Regions from separate parts of the Homo sapiens genome. Here region 2 is linked to region 1. A link means that fine-mapping ties the variant in region 1 to the expression of a gene that starts in the linked region. Tissue or cell type: whole blood. Region 1 holds a variant in brackets; the other region holds the start of a gene. All regions are shown on one strand. Distances are between the middles of the regions.

Evidence for each region. PIP is the estimated chance that this variant, and not a neighbour inherited with it, causes the effect.
Region 2: CCND3 starts here. The variant in region 1 is fine-mapped to the expression of CCND3 in whole blood (INTERVAL, PIP above 0.99).

Annotation. Positions count from the first base shown.
Region 1 is chr6:41,987,079-41,995,184 of GRCh38, forward strand. It overlaps a transcript of CCND3 not described here. Among named protein-coding and RNA genes, the nearest start is that of CCND3, 49 kb to the left of the region's middle. The variant G/A (reference allele first, on the strand shown) is at 4,977.
Region 2 is chr6:41,937,850-41,945,955 of GRCh38, forward strand. It overlaps CCND3 (cyclin D3), which reads right to left and starts at 3,959. Exons shown (of 5, transcript NM_001760.5): 1 at 3,603-3,959; 2 at 2,521-2,736. The coding sequence starts at 3,800. RefSeq lists enhancers at 430-1,245, 1,246-2,061, 1,642-1,936, 3,018-3,147, 3,190-4,141 and a silencer at 3,658-4,107.

The DNA.
Region 1 (8,106 bases):
ATCCTGTAAACCAGCTCTGGATATTAATTAACTCTGGATTAATGGGATGGACTTTCTATTTTTACAGTAGGAAGAAAATGGCAAAAACATATTGTCAATTACATTTCGCACTCATTCCTCTCTTTTGAGCTCCTCACTTTAACTTTAACTCACTGATTGGTTCTGGTGCCTGTAACATTGGCTCCAAAGGCTTGTGGCATTGTCCTAATACTTCAGTGATACCTTGGAAGGACCCCGATATTGCTTCCTATTGAGAGGTAGCAGCACTTCAGAAAAGACTGGGTGCTTATACAAGCTAGCCAATTGGTAAGGCTTATGGAGTACTTCTGCTTAACTTTAGATCTTTGGTATATTAAAAGCTTTGCCTTCTGTAACCACAACTCCCATGGACCAGGCTTTTCTCTCTCTCTCTCTCTCTCTCTCTCTCTCTCTCTCTCTCTGTGTGTGTGTGTGTGTGTGTGTGTGTGTGTGTGTGTGTTTTAGAGACAGAGTCTTGTTCTGTCGTTCAGGCTACCAGTGGCTCAAGTGATCCTCCAGCCTCAGTCTCCCAAGTAGCTGGGACTACAGGTGTGTACCACCATACTCAGCTAATTTTTTTTTTTTAATAGAGAGGGGGTCTTGCTATGTTGCCCAGACTGGTCTCGAACTCTTGGGCTCAAGTGATCTTCCTGCCTTGGCCTCCCAAAGTGCTGGGATTACAGGTGTGAGCCAGCATGACAGGCCACGGAATTTTTTTCTGAATGGTGAATTATATACACCTGGAATCTGCTTTGTGCTGAGGAGAAAATGCATCTTTTACACTTAGTGATCTCTTTTCTTTGCTTCCTTTTTGAGCTTAGCTTTGTTCTCTTCTCTCTTTTTTATCTCTGCAAACTCCTCTAGTGCCTCCCTAAATTGCATCACTGGTTCCCCAAACCATTCTCAGGTACTCCTTCAGATAAAAATAATTAAAACAGACCAGGCACGGTGGCTTATGCCTGTAATCCCAGCACTTTGAGAGGCCAAGGCAGGCGGATCACCTGAGGTCAGGAGTTCGAGACCAACCTGACCAACATGGAGAAACCCTGTCTCTACTAAAATAGCCAGGCATGGTGGCGCATGCCTGTAATCCCAGCTACTCGGGAGGCTGAGGCAGGATAATTGCTTGAACCCGGGAGGCAGAGGTTGTGATGAGCTGAGATCGTGCCATTGCACTCCAGCCTGGGTGGGCAACAAGAGTGAAACTCTGTCTCAAAACATAATAATAATAAAAATTAAAACAGTATTTCTCATTCTTACAGCCGCTCACCATCTTCTCTCAATCCTGATAGCCACTGCTGCCTAAATAACTACCCCATTTTTGAATAGTTATTACAATTCTTTTAAGTGCCTAATGTATGCCTGAACATGTCAATATCCTGTAAACCAGCTCTGAATTTTAACTGCTGGATCATTTTCCTTTTTTTCTAAATGTATTCACAATACTGTTCCTAAAGGAGTACGGATTTCCTACAACTGATGGCCAGCCTTGCAGCTGGGCTAACATGGCCATGGCCTCTTGGCCTCATGGGGGATGGCTTTTTAGATATAATGCCAAAGGCATGATTTATGAAAAAATAATTGATAAGCTGAACTTCTTTTCTTTTTTTTTTTTTTTTTGAGACGGAGTCTGGCTCTGTCGCCCAGGCTGGAGTGCAGTGGCGCGATGTCGGCTCACTGCAAGCTCCGCCTCCCGGGTTCACGCCATTCTCCTGCCTGAGGCTCCCGAATAGCTGGGACTACAGGCGCCTGCCACCGCGCCCAGCTAATTTTTTTGTATTTTTAGCAGAGACGGGGTTTCACTGTGTTAGCCAGGATGGTCTCGATCTCCTGACCTCATGATCCGCCCGCCTCGGCCTCCCAAAGTGCTGGGATTACAGGCGTGAGCCACCTCGCCCGGCCGATAAGCTGAACTTCATTAAAATTTAAAACCTCCGCTCCACAAAAGGCAATGTCAAAAGAATGAGAAGACAAGCCACAGACTAGGGGGAAATAATTGCAAAGAACACATTTGATAAAGGATTGTTATTCGCAATATGCAAAAAAAACTCTTAAAATCTCAACAATAAGAAAACAAACAACCTGGGCACTGTGGCTCATGCCTGTAATCCCAAGACTTTGGGAGGCTAAGGCGGGTGGATCACCTGAGGTAAGGAGTTCGAGATCGGCCTGGCCAACATGGTGAAACCCCATCTCTACTAAAAATACAAAAATTAGCTGGGTGTGGTCTTTGGTATATTAAAAGCTACTCGGGAGACTGAGGCAGGAGAATCGCTTGAACCTGGGAGATGGAGGTTGCAGTGAGCAAGATTGTGCCATTGTACTCTAGCCTGGGCGACAAGAGTGAAACACTGTCTCAAAAAAAAAAAACAAAAAAAAAAAACAGAAAAGAAAACAACAATCTGATTACAAAGTGGGCAGAAGAACCAAGCTGATATCTCACCAAACATCTACAGATAGCAAATAAGCATATGTAAAGGTGTTCTAAATCATATGTCATTAGAAAATTGCAAATTAAAACAATAATGATGTACCACTATGCACCTATTAGAATGACTGAGATACCAAACATTGGCATATCAAGTGCTGGTGAGAATGTGAAGCAACAAAAACTCTCATTCATTGCTGGTGGGAATGCAAAATGGTATATTCACTTTGGAAGACAATTTAACAGTTTCTTATATGACTAAAAGTACTATTCTATAACCCGGCAGTTATACTCCTTGGTATCTGCCCAAATGAACTGAAAACTTACGTGCACACAAAAACCTGCACACAGATGTTGATAGTGGCTTTATTCATAATTGTCAAAACTCTGAGGCCCAAGCTGTCCTTCAGTAGGTGAATGGATACCAAAGCCAGAGCAATTAGGCAAGAGAAAAAAAATAAAGGACTTATAAATTGGAAAAGAAGGAAGTCAAATTGTTCCAGTTTGCAGATGACATAATCCTATACATAGAAAAAGCTAAAGACTACCAAAAAACTGATAAACAAATTCAGTAAAGTTGCAGGATACAAAATCAACATACAAAAATCAGTAGTGTTTCTATACATGAACAATGAACTAATTGAAAAAGAAATCAAGAATGCAATTCCATTATAATAGCTCTAAAAAAAAAACCTACAAATAAATTTTACCAAGGAGGTGAAAGACTTCTACAAGGAAAACTACAAAACACTGATGAAAGAAATTGAAGTTGAAGATGATACAAATGGAAAGACGGCCCATGTTCATGGATTGGAAGAATTAATATTGTTAAAATGATCGTATTACCAAAAGCAATCTACAGATTCACTGTACTATCTATCAACATGTCAGTATATTCTTCATAGAAATAGAAAAAAAAATCCTAAAATTCATAAGAAACCACAAAAGACCCCAAATAGGCAAAGCAATCCTGAGCAAAAAGAACAAAGCTGAAGGCATTACACTACCAGTCTTCAAAATATACCACAAAGCTGTAGTAACTAAAATAGCATGGTAGTGACATAAAAATAGACACATAAACCAATAGGAAATAATAGAAAACCCAGAAATTAGTCCATGAATCTATAACCAACTGATTTTTTTTTTTTTTTTTTTTTTTTTTTTTTTGTGATGGAGTCTTGCTCTGTCACCCAGGCTGGAGTGCAGTGGCAAAGTGGCAAAATCTCAGCTCCCTGCACCTCTGCCTCCGGAGTTCAAGTGATTATCCTGCCTCAGCCTCCAGGGTAGCTGGGACTACAGGCGCCTGACACCATGTCCGGCTAATTTTTGTATTTTTAGTAGAGTCGGAGTTTCACCATGTTGGCCAGACTGGTTTTGAACCCCTGACCTAAGGTGATCCGCCCACCTCAGCCGCCCAAAGTGCTGGGATTACAGGTGTGCGCCACTGCCCCGGCTTAGCCAACTGATTTTTGACAAAGGTGCCAAGAACACTCACTGGGGAAAGGATAGTCTCTTCAAGAAATGGTGCTGGGAAAACTTTTTTTTTTTTTTAAGGCGGAATTTCCCTCTTGTTGCCCAGACTGGAGTGCAATGGCGTGATCTCAGCTCACTGCAACCTCTGCCTCCTGGGTTCAAGCGATTCTTCTGCCTCAGCCTCCCAAGTAGCTGGGGCTACAGGCATGTGGCACCACACCCGGCTAATTTTTGTATTTTTAGTAGAGACAAGGTTTCACCATGTTGGCCAGGCTGGTCTCAAACTCCTGACCTCAGGTGATCCACCCGCCTTGGTCTCCCAAAGTGCTGGGATTATAGGCGTAAGCCACCATGCCCAGCCCCGCTCAGGTACATAGCTCAGCTGATAGCTCATTTCTTTTTACCACAAAATAATACTCCATTGTCTGGATGCACCAGTTTGTTTCTTTTTAATTTAGTATAATTGTATTTTTTAATTGATACATAATAATTGTACATATTTATGGGGTACATAGTGATGTTTCAATACATATAGTGTACAGTGATCAGAGTAATTAGCATATCCATCATCTCAAACATTTGTCATTTTGTTTGTTTTGGGAGCATTCAGTATCCTCCACCTAGCTGTTTGAAACTATTATTATTATTCTTAACTGTAGTCATTCCAACAGTGGCATAGAACACTGGAACTTATTCCTCCTATGTAGCTGTAATTTTGTAACCTTTAACAAATCTCTCCCTATGCTTCCTTTCCCCTCCCCTTTCCATCCTCTAGTATTTTCTGTTCTACTTTTTCCTTCTATGACATCAGCTTTTTAAAGCTTCCACGTGTGAGTGAGAACATGCGGTGTTTAACTTTCTATTCCTGGTTTATCTGACTTCACATAATGTCCTCAGTTTCATCCACGGTGACATAAATGACAGGATTTCATTCTTTTTTATGGCTGAAAAGAATTCCATTGTGTACGTGCCACATTTTCTTCATCCATTCATCAGCTGTTGGACACCAAGGTTGATTCGATATCTTGATTGTTGTCAATAGCGCTGCAATAAATAC[G/A]GAGGTGTGGATGTCTCGTCAATATACTGATTTCCTTTCCTTTGGATAAATGCCCAGTAGTGGGATTGCTGGATCATATGGTAGTTTGATTTGTAGTTTTTTTGTTTTATTTATTTTTTAATTTTTGAGAAGAAGTCTCACTCTGTCGCCCAGGCTGGAGTGCAGTGGCATGATCTCAGCTCATTGCAACCTCCACCTCCTGGGTTCAAGAGATTCTCATGCCTCAGCCTCCCAAGTAGCTGGGATTACAGGTGCCTGCCACCATGCCCGGCTAATTTTTGCATTTTTAGTAAAGACGTGGTTTTACCATGTTGGGCAGGCTGGTCTCAAACCCCTGACCTCAAGTAATCCTCCTGCCTCAGCCCCCAAAGTGCTGGGATTACAGGCATGAGCCACCACACCCAGCCGGTTTTTTTTTTTTTTTTTAGATGGAGTCTTGCTCTGTGCCAGGCTGGAGTGCAGTGGCTCACTGCAACCTCCACCTCCCGGGTTCAGACAATTCTCCTGCCTCAGCCTCCTAAGTAGCTGGGATAACAGGCATGCGCCACCACGCCCAGCTAATTTTTGTATTTTTAGTACAGACGGGGTTTCACCATGTTGGCCAGGCTGGTCTCGAACTCCTGACCTTGTGATACACTGGTCTCGGCCTCCCAAAGTGCTGGGATTACAGGTGTGAGCCACAACACCCAGCAATATTTTATCTATCTTGGGACAGGGTCTCGCTCTGTCACCTAGGCTAGAGTATGGTTCCACTATCATGGCTCACTGCAATCTCGTCCTCCCTCAAGCAATCCTCCTGTCTCAGCCTCCCAAAGTGCTGAGGTTACAAGCATGAGCCTCTGTGCCTGGCCTTGTTTTTATTTTTGTTTTTAAAGATGGAGTCTCACTCTTTCATCCAGGCTGGAGTGCAGTTGTACAATCATAGCTCTCTGTAGCCTTGAACTCCTGGGCTCAGGCAATCCTCACACCTAAGCCCCTAAGTAACAAGACTATAGGCACACTATATCATGCCTGGCTTAAAAATGTTTTGTAGAGACAGGGTCTTGATGTGTTGCTTAAAATGGTCTTGAACTCCTGGCTCCAAGTGATCTCCCCACCTTGGCCTCCCAAAGCTCTGGGATTACAGGTGGAAACCACCATACCTGGTCTGATTTACAGTTTTTTGAGGAAACTCCATAATGTTTGCTATAGTGGCTGCAATAGTTTATATTCCCACCAACCGTCTATGAGATCCCTTTTCTCCTCATCCTCACAGCATAGATGATACCTCATTGTGGTTTTACTTGGATTTCCCTGATGATTAGTGATGTTGAACATTTTCCCATATATCAATATATTTGTTAAGCTCATGTCTTCTTTTTTTTTTTTTTTTTTTGAGATGGAGTCTTGCTCTGTTGCCCAGGCTGGAGTGCAGTGGTACCATCTCAACTCACTGCAGCCTCTGCCTCCTGGGTTCAAGCAGTTCTCCTGCCTCAGCCTCTGGAGTAACTGGATTACAGGCATGCGCCACCATCCCCAGCTAATTTCTGTATTTTCAATACAGATGGGGTTTCACGATTTGGCCAGGCTGGTCTTGAACTTCTGACCTCAGATGATCCGCCCACCTCGGCCTCCAAAAAAAAAGCTGGCTGGGTGCAGTGGTTCACTATCACGAGGTCAGGAGTTTGAGACCAGCCTGGCCAACATACTGAAACCTGTCTCTACTAAAAATACAAAAAATTAGCTGGGCATGGTGGTGGGTACCCATAATCCCAGCTACTTGGGAGGCTGAGGCAGGAGAATAGCTTGAACCCGGGAGGTGGAGGTTGTAGTCAACCAAGATCACACCACTGCACTCCAGCCTGGGTGACAGAGCGACAGACTCTTGTCTTAAAAAAAAAAAAAAAAAAAAAAAAAAAAAAAAAAAAAGAGCTATCAAGCCATGAAAAGACATAGAGAAAACTTAAGTGGATATTACTTAGTGAAGAATGCCAATCTGAAAAAGCTTCATACTAGATGACTCCAAATACAGTCATATGCCACACAGTTTTCGGTCAACAATGGACTGCATATATGACGGTGGTCCCATGAGGTTATAATATCTTATTGTTACTCTACCTTTTCCACCTCTAGATAGACAAACTACTTGCCATTGTGTTACAGTTGCCTACAGAATTCAGTACAGTAACCTGCTATACAGGTTTGTAGCTTAGGAGCAATAGGCTATCCCATATAGTCTAGGGGTGTAGGAGGCTATTCCATCTAGGTTTGTGTAAGTACACTCGATGATGTTCACACAATGACAACATCACCTGACAACTCGTTTATCAGAACATACCCCCCTCATTAAGTGATGCATGATTGTAGATGACATTCTGGAAAAGGCCAAACTATGGAGGGAGCAAAAAGACCAGTGGTTCCCAGGAATTAGGGGAAAGCATGAGACAAACAAACAGAGCACAGAGGATTTTTAGGGTAGTGAAAGTATTCTGTATATTACTACAATGGTGGATACATGTCATATGTTTGTCAAAAACCAAAGAATGGACACCAAAAGTGAACCCTAAGGTAAATGCTGGTCTTTCAGTGATAATATATCAACGTAGGTTCATCACCTGTAACAAATACATCACTAGGGTGCAGGGTGTCAATAGTGAGGGAAGCTGTGCATGTATGGCGTAGGAATTATATGGGAACTCTGTACTTTTGCAGCTCAATTTTGCTGTGAACCAAATCTACTCTAAAAAAATAAAATATAGGCCGGGCGCGGTGGCTTATGCTTGTAATCTCAGCACTTTGGGAGTCCGAGGTGGGCAGATCACGAGGTCAGGAGTTCCAGACCAGGCTGGCCAACATGGTGAAACCCCGTCTCTACTACAAATACAAAAATTAGCCAGGCGTGGTGGCAGCCGCCTGTAATTCCAGCTACTCGGGAGGCTGAGGCAGGAGAATCACTTGAACCCAGGAGGCGGAGGTTGCAGTCAGCCGAGATCGTGCCATTGCATTCCAGCCTGGGCGACAGAGTGAGACTCCGTCTCAAAAATAGATAAACAAAAATAAATAAATAAATAAAGTATATTAGTTAAAATTTTTATTTATGCATAAGAACATACAAATGGTTATTTATTATAGCAAAAAATTTGTAAACAAC
Region 2 (8,106 bases), 49 kb before region 1:
TCCCCTGCAACTCTGCATCCCAGCCAAGTCCACACTTCTTGAATCAACAGAAGGGAGTATGACTCCTCCAATGACAGCCACAGAGCCTTTTCTCAGGTTCCTCAAAGGGGAGATTGCCCAACCCAAGCCACATCCCCTTGGTAGGATATCAGGGATGGGTCCTGAGGTATAGCACCCCACCCCACCCCCTTTAGCTGGAACCCGTAGTGCCCCATGCCACTTGACTTTCAGGAGGATAGGTAGAGGCCAAGCCAGACAGGATGGCTCCAAATGATTCCAGAGGGATCAAGCCCTATCCTCACCTACCCAAGCCTACCTGCCAGTACTAGGTCTCGGGAGAAGGCTGGGAGCTCCACCCCAGTCCACTCGTCATGGGTTCCCAGACCTGGCCCCATTTCTGAGTTGCACACATGAGGATTTCTTCATTGTTTTATCTCAGGAAGGAACTTGTGGGTTTGACTCCTTATTGAGGCAGAAATGGCAACCCCACCCAACCTCTTCCAGGCCCCAGCCACAGCTGTCTCTCTCTTGGCCCCAGCTTAGGTGTCAGCCTCTCAAATCAACCCCTACCCTCACAGAGCCCCAGAGAAAATAGCCTGGCCTGGAGCCAGAAGTGAGACAGATAAATTACAACGCTACCCCTAGTGCATGTCCCAGGAGCCAACTCCTAACTCAGCAGTAAACAGAAGGGACTCAGCTTCTAAGGAAGCATCTGGAAGGCAACTGGGAGTGGGACTCTCCCTATGGGGAGGCAAGGGGTTGTGTTTGAGGGAAAGTGGCCACCTTTCCCCATATCCAGGCAACCAGAGAATCCCAGTGTTAACTGGTGGAGAACACACCCCTGGGAGTGCTTAGCTTCAGTAGGTGGCAGCGGCCATCACATTCCTGACTTTTAAGGCAACCTGGTCTAGCTAGAAGACCCAGGTTCTACACTCATCTGCTCAGTGCGATGCTGAGGCAGGACCTTGCCCTCCTTCCTTGGGCCTCAGCCTCCTCTGCTGCACACGGATTTGGACCAACTGGAGTTCTCAGAGGTCCCTTCCAACCTTGACCTTCTAGGAAGTCTTTTGGGCACTCCACCCCCAGCTCAGGCAGAGGGAAGAGTACTTTTTGCCTGTACTGAAAAACCCTCATACGTGGGCACACAAACCACCTCCATCTTTTCACAAAAAGGAAGTTCCCCTTCTACCTTCCAGCCCCAACCCCTCCAAAAACATCTTGCTCTCTGGCCCTGGAAACTAGCTCCACCTTCAGACTTGCCAAAAACTACCAGATTCATCACAAAGAGCTGTGGCGCCTCCTGGATTCCCAACTCTGGCCTCCTACTCCCATCTCTGAGCTACTTGGCAGGAAGAGGAATCCTGTTCCTCGACTCACAGCAGTCGGGGGCCCCAGTACCCTGGCTTCCCTGCCAGCCAATCACAGCAGCCTGCTTGCTGCCCTCCTCCCTGGGAGATGGGGCCCAGAGACTCCTCTCAGGGTCAGCAGAAGACTTGGCCCGCCACAGAGCAAGGTGGAGGAAGGTGCCAGCTCACCCACCCTCTCCCCCAGCCTCCCTAGGAGACAATCTGCATGTCCTAAATAACCTCTTCCAGATCCAGCAGCTCCCCCGCCTCCTCCCCAGGCTCCTTCTGAGGCGGGACAGAACCGGTGACTTTCCTGCCCGGCCTGAGCCCAGCCCAAGTTTCCAGCAAGAGGCCCAGGGAGCCACTTCCCAAACCACAGGAGTGACAGCAGCTCCCCACAGGGTTATGAAAGACCTTGGTCAGAGAGGGCGGGCCAGGGGAGGGGGCACCATTATCACATCGGAAGCAGATGCAGCTCACCTCCCTGTCTGTCCCTCAGCTTGGGCCTTGGGCTAAGGGGGGAAGAGGGAGCTGTTTCCACCAGGCCCAAAGCAGCTGCTCCAGTTCCTCAGAATGAGGACGAGGAAGGATTAGGAAGAAGCTGTTTCTTCCGGGATATAAGAGGAAGCAAAGAAGGTGGGATGAAATACATCAGCCCTTCCTTAAAGCAATCAGGGCCTGGCTTTAATTGGCTCTGGGAGGCTTTTCTATCACAAAGTCCACATGAGGATAAAGACTCAACCAAGGCAAAACCCCCTCCCCCACATGAAGCACATTCCACTCCCCTACTCCAGTGGGGGTGTGCAGGCATGCCCTTCTGCTGCCAATAAATAACTCATGGTGGCTGCGTAAACCCAGAGGCAAAGTACTAGTGAGTGTAGACATGCAATTTGACTTGTTGCTATCTGGGGGAAAGACCAGGAAGGAGTGGCATCCCCTGGAGGTCAGGAGGAGGGGGTTTAATGCCTGCCTGCAGCTCAAGCCTGGGCGGGAGTGATACTAACCATCACACCACAATGCCCCATCGTTTGTTCCACCCCAATTCCTTTCCCAAAGGTCCTGATCCCCTTGCTTCCTCTCCAGGGGGCAGAAAGCCTCTGATATCTCAAGCTTTCCTTTTCCTGGAAAGTGGGGAGACAATACGTGTCGGGGGTGGGGGGAGTTACACACGCACCCGCAACTGGCGGGGAGAGACAGCGTGGTCGGTGTAGATGCACAGTTTTTCGATGGTCAGGGGCGTGGTCTCGCGCAGCTTGGAGGCCAGCAGCATGCAGACCGCACCCAGGAGCTGCAACTGCGCCTTTCGGGTGGGGACGCAAGACAGGTAGCGATCCAGGTAGTTCATGGCCAGGGGGAAGACTTCCTCCTCACAGCGCTGCTCCTCACATACCTGGGGGAGGGCGCACAGTCACTGCTGGGTCTGGAGCGTGGGGAACACAGCAGCGGGGGGGTGGGAGCGCTGAAGTGAGGTGGGATAGGGAGCAAAAACGGCAGAGAGGGTAAGCTACTTAGAGAGACAAGGACCAATAAAGGAGGAGGATGCGCCCTCCCCAAGGTGACGCCCCCCACTTCCTCTGCGCGGCCTCCTCCCCTCTCCCCTTGACGGGGGAGTGGTAAAGCCAAGGAGCCCTTGCTCACGGAGGATTCCAAACGGAGACTCCCCTCCCCCACAGCGAGGGGAAGTGGGACGCAAGGGTCACCCATGGTAGCCAGAGAGCTGGGACCTCACCCCCATCACCGCCACCACTGCACACACCCGAGGGGAAGGGAGGAGGCTCCTGCCGCTGCCTCCTGCACTTTTCATTTCCCTGTCGGCCGGAACAGGGCGCGCGCCACCCCCATCGCCTTCCCCGCCAGAACCCCGCGAAAGACACAGGAACCGGCTCCCGGGCGGGGGCGGCCGAGCCCAGGGTTTTCCAGGCGCGCTCTCCGGAGAAGGCCGGGAGGCGGAGGGAAGCGGGAGACGCTGTGAGAAGCCGAAGGGGAGAGAGTGTCCTTGGTCCCGTTTGCTCGGCCCGAAGAGAGGCACAGTTAGGGTGCCAAGTGACTGGCAGTCACTGTCGGGAGGAGCCGATTAGGGCTCGGGAAAGCAAGGGAGGCAGCTGGCGTGGGTGCCCTAGTGAAAGGCCAGGCCCCGGGAGTCTTAGCCTCGGAGCATCCTGCAGATTGCTGTGGGGACCGGGATGTCCCGACAGGGCGGCCCCGGTGTGTCCAGACCCGGGAGCGGTGGGGGAGGGGGACGCGTCCGGGCGGTACCTCCAGCATCCAGTAAGCCAGCATCTTCCGCATGTGCGGCTTGATCTCCCGCTGCACGCACTGGAAGTAGGAGGCGCGGGGTACGTAGCGCTCCTCCAGGCGGAGCAGGCTCTGCAGGACACGCTGGTCCCCCAGCAGCCGCGGGTCCGGCCCGGCCCGGGGCGCGTGCCGGGTGCCTTCGCAACACAGCAGCTCCATACTCGGGCAGCGAACAGGCAGGGCGGGAGTGCGGGCTCGCGAGTCCCAAGGCAGGCGACGGGCCGGAGAGCGCGGGGCGCGGGTCTGGCGCTGGCGCTGGCACTGCGCGGCGGATCCCCAGCCCGCCCGCCGCCCGCGCGCGCGCGCCGCTTCCCTGACAGGCGCCCCGCCCCTCGCGACGATGTAGCAACCGTGGAATGCTCGGACGTCGCAACGCTCCGAGGGGCGGGGCTGCGGCGCCCCGGACGGAAAGGGTTGGCTGAGCGCTCTCCCCTCCCTCCCGCGGCCCCATTGGGCCGCTGAGCGCAAGCCGGCCGGCTTCCGGGCACTCCAGGCCCTCTGGACCACCGGGTGCAGAGAACTTTCTAGGAGGTGGGCCTCCTACCCACCCACGGGCCCTCCCATTTTGCTTCTCGGACTCTAGTCACCCAGGAAACAATTTTTCTCCAAAGGTCATTCATTCACTTATTCATTCGTCAAACCCTACTTCACCGGCTGCTTGCTCTAAGGAATGCGATAAATAATGTCAGAGCTAGTTCTTAGTGAACGCTGCTCGAAAGCCTCACGATGTAATGACTCACTACATCTTCACGAAAACTCGGAAACCGAGGCAACTGTCATTCAGTTGGTCCGTGGCAGAGCTAGGATTGGGAAGCTGGCCTTCTTGCTGCAGATTCTGTGTTCTACACCATTGCTAGTTAAACTGTGATCCCAGACCTGTCCCGTGCGTGGTCATCGCCTGGGAGCTGGTTAGAAATGCAGACTCTCAGGCCCACCCCTAACCTGAATCAGAATCTGCATTTTAACTAGATTTCTGTGCACTTTAAAGTATGAGAGCTTTAGTCTAAGTCAGCATATAACAGAACGGAAAGGCCATGGAGTCATGGCCTCACCTTGTTAAGTTGCTTGCCTAGGTTTGGACAAGCCCCTAAAGTCGGCCTTAGTTTCTGTTTGGAGAAACTGTGGACGGAGAAACTAGATTCTCATTGAATCAGTTTCTTGCACAGACTCTGTGAGATCTACCGGTTGCATTTCTTCCACCTCCCAAACTTTTGGTTACTTTGTAGTTTTACCGGAAGCTAGATTCCACTTGACGAAGAGGCCGAAAAAGACCTCCAATAATGCTCCAAATGGGAGGAGGCCATGAGGATCCCTGCCCTACTGGGGTCCTCCTGACTTAGGAGACACTAAGGAAGTGTCTAACCATTTTCTGTTAATTATTCTTTTTTTTTTTTTTTTTTTTTTTTGAGACGAAGTCTCACTCTGTTGCTCAAGCTGGAGTGCAGTGGTGCGATCTGGGCTCACTGCAACCTCCACCTCCCGGGTTCAAGCAATTCCCGAGTAGCTGGGACTACAGGCACGCACCACCATGCCTGACTAATTTTTGTATTTTTCGTAGAGATGGGGTTTCACTATGTTGGCCAGGCTAGTCTTGAACCCCTGACCTCGTGATCCGCCGGTCTCGGCCTCCAAAAGTGCTGGGATTACAGGCGTGAGCCACCGTTCCCGGCCGAATTATTCTTTCTTATATTATAAATTGTATTGTAGTTTTCATATCATAAAATATTCTTTTACATTGTAGAAAACTTCAAAAATACAAATAAGCCACAAAAAAAGGAAATAATCATTTGCAATTTGCCATGAAATAACCCTTTAATATATCAATGTTTATTTTTCTAATCTTTGTTCTATGAATAAACACACATTTTAAATGGAATCATCACAAACTGTTTTGTAAGCTTTTTTCATTAAAAAAATACTGTTAACACTTTTCCATGCTATTAAATATTCTAGGACATAATTTGTAATAGGGACATAATATACCATTAGGTGAATGTACAAAATGTATTTTGGCAAACCTGTATTGGTGGAAATTTAAATTATTTCTAGTTCTTCTCTATTAGACATAATACTGTAAAATATTTTTGTGGTAATATCTTTGTGCACACTCATGATTATTTCTAGAAGTGAATTAATTTCTAGAAGTGGAATTTCCCAATCTAAGGTTATGAAACATTCTAAGGCTTTTGATACACTTCTAATTGCCAAATTTTCCTGCTGAATAGTTAAACCAATCTTTTCCACCATCATTACATATCTATTTTTCAAAACAACTCTGCCAACTAGAGAGTGAAAGTGGCTTATTAGTAATAATAAATCTATTTTGGCATATTACTAGACATTTACATTTCTTATGTACATTACCCATTCATGTCCTTAGCTTATTCATTTATAGGGATGTTTGTTTTCTCTTATTGACTTATAAGTTCTCATCACCTCTCAAAGATATTAACCCTTTTCATATTTTTTGTTTGGTTTTTTAACTTTGGTTATAAAAATTCTTGACATAAATTAATTTTTAAAATCAGTATTTTTAAAACTTCTCATTTATAGTAACATGGCACTATGTATAAAAATGTCCCATCAGCCCAGCACTTTGGGAGGCTGAGGCAGGAGGATCACTGGAAGCTAGGAGTTGAAGACCAGCCTGGACAACAAAGCAAGACTCCTATCTCTACAAAAAATAAAAAAAAAAAATAAGCTGGGTGCGGTGGCACAAGCCTGTAGTCCCAGCTACTAGGGAGACCGAAGCAGGAGGATCGCTTGAGCCCAGGAGTTCAAGGCTGCAGTGAACCATAACGGCACATGACCTTCCTTAACATTTTGTTATCATACATTTTGCAAAAACAAAATTTTAGTTCATTGTTTTTACTAATTTTTGGTTCACGGTGGATTTTTTTTTTTTTAACAAATAGAAGGGTTTTTTGTGTTTTTCTTTGTTTTTTGGTTTTCTTTGTTTTTTTGACACAAAGTTTTGCTCTTGTCACCAGGCTGGAGTGCAGCTTACTGCAACCTCTGCCTCCTGGTTTCAAGTGATTCTCCTGCCTCAGCTTCCTGAGTAGCTGGGATTACGGGTGCATACCACCATGCCCGGCTAATTTTTGTATTTTCAGTAGATACGGGATTTCACCATGTTGGCCAGGCTGGTCTCGAACTCCTGACCTCAAGTGATCTGCCTGCCTCAGCTTCCTAAAGTGCTGGGATTACAGGCACAAACCACCGCACCTGGCAAATTAGTTGCTGATTTATTAATTGAGGGAGGGCCACATAGACTGACTAGTCCTGAAAGCTGGATGTGAACCTGTAGTATGGGGACGGGAGCTCCTGGTGAGCAGGACTTTAGGAGAGATACTTCTGCCTCACCCCTGGATGGAATAGCCATGCCTAGAGCTAGATCATCCCTGACTTTCAGGGCCAAGGACTGGCCACTGGGGAGGCAGGTGAGCTCAATGCAGGACCAGCACAAGTTCACCAGTTACCTCCACCTCAAAGAAATAGAGGCTCCTCTTGTTTTTCTTGTTTTTGTTTTTGTTTTTCTAAAAGGAAAACTAAAGACAAAGCAATGACCAGGGCCAATAGTATGAGGAGTTTCTACCCAGGTACATCCAGTTAGAAAAAGTCAATAAAATGGCAAATTGGAGGAGGGGTGGGAATGGAATGTCACAGGCCAAATAAGAAACCCCAAGGAGGAAAGATACATTTTCTTTCTCTTCCTCTTCATCATCAAAATACCCCCATCTGGGCCAGGCACGGTGGCTCACGCCTGTAATCCCAGCACTTTGGGATGCCAAGACGGGTGGATCACCTGAAGTCAGGAGTTCGAGACCAGCCTGGCCAACATGGTAAAACCTTGTCTCTACTAAAAATACAAAAAATTAGCCAGGTGTGGTGGTGGATGCCTGTAATCCCAGCTACTCCGGAGGCTGAGCAGGAGAATCACTTGAACCCTGGAGCCAGAGGCTGCAGTGAGCCGAGATCGTGCCATTGCACTCTAGCCAGGGCAACAAGAGCGAAACTCTGTCTCCAAAAAAAAAAGTCCGCATCTGAGAAGTGAGAGGCTGAACAAGGTGATGGGTGAGGCCCATCACCCCACAGTCCACATGCCATGGCTTAGTTACCTTCAGACCCATTGAGATGCTGGGGAGAGCCAAGCGAGCCATGGGGCTGAGAACAGGGGTGCTAAACAGGGTTCTGGAGTCAGAGACTGCTTTCAGTTCAAACCTGGCTCCACAGCTTATGACTTTGAGAGAATTACTGGAACCTCTCTGCTTCCTCTTTTATCCAGTGGGGATAATATAATAGCCCTATAATGATGTTCTGAAAATTAAACAAGCAGAAAATGTCTTACCTGTGCCTGGCACAAAGCAAGCATTCAGAGATAGTAGTTTCTGAAATGATTATTATTATTCCCTTTCTCAAGGAGTACCCTTTCTGTTATGAACATGCATCCATAACCCCTCTAAGA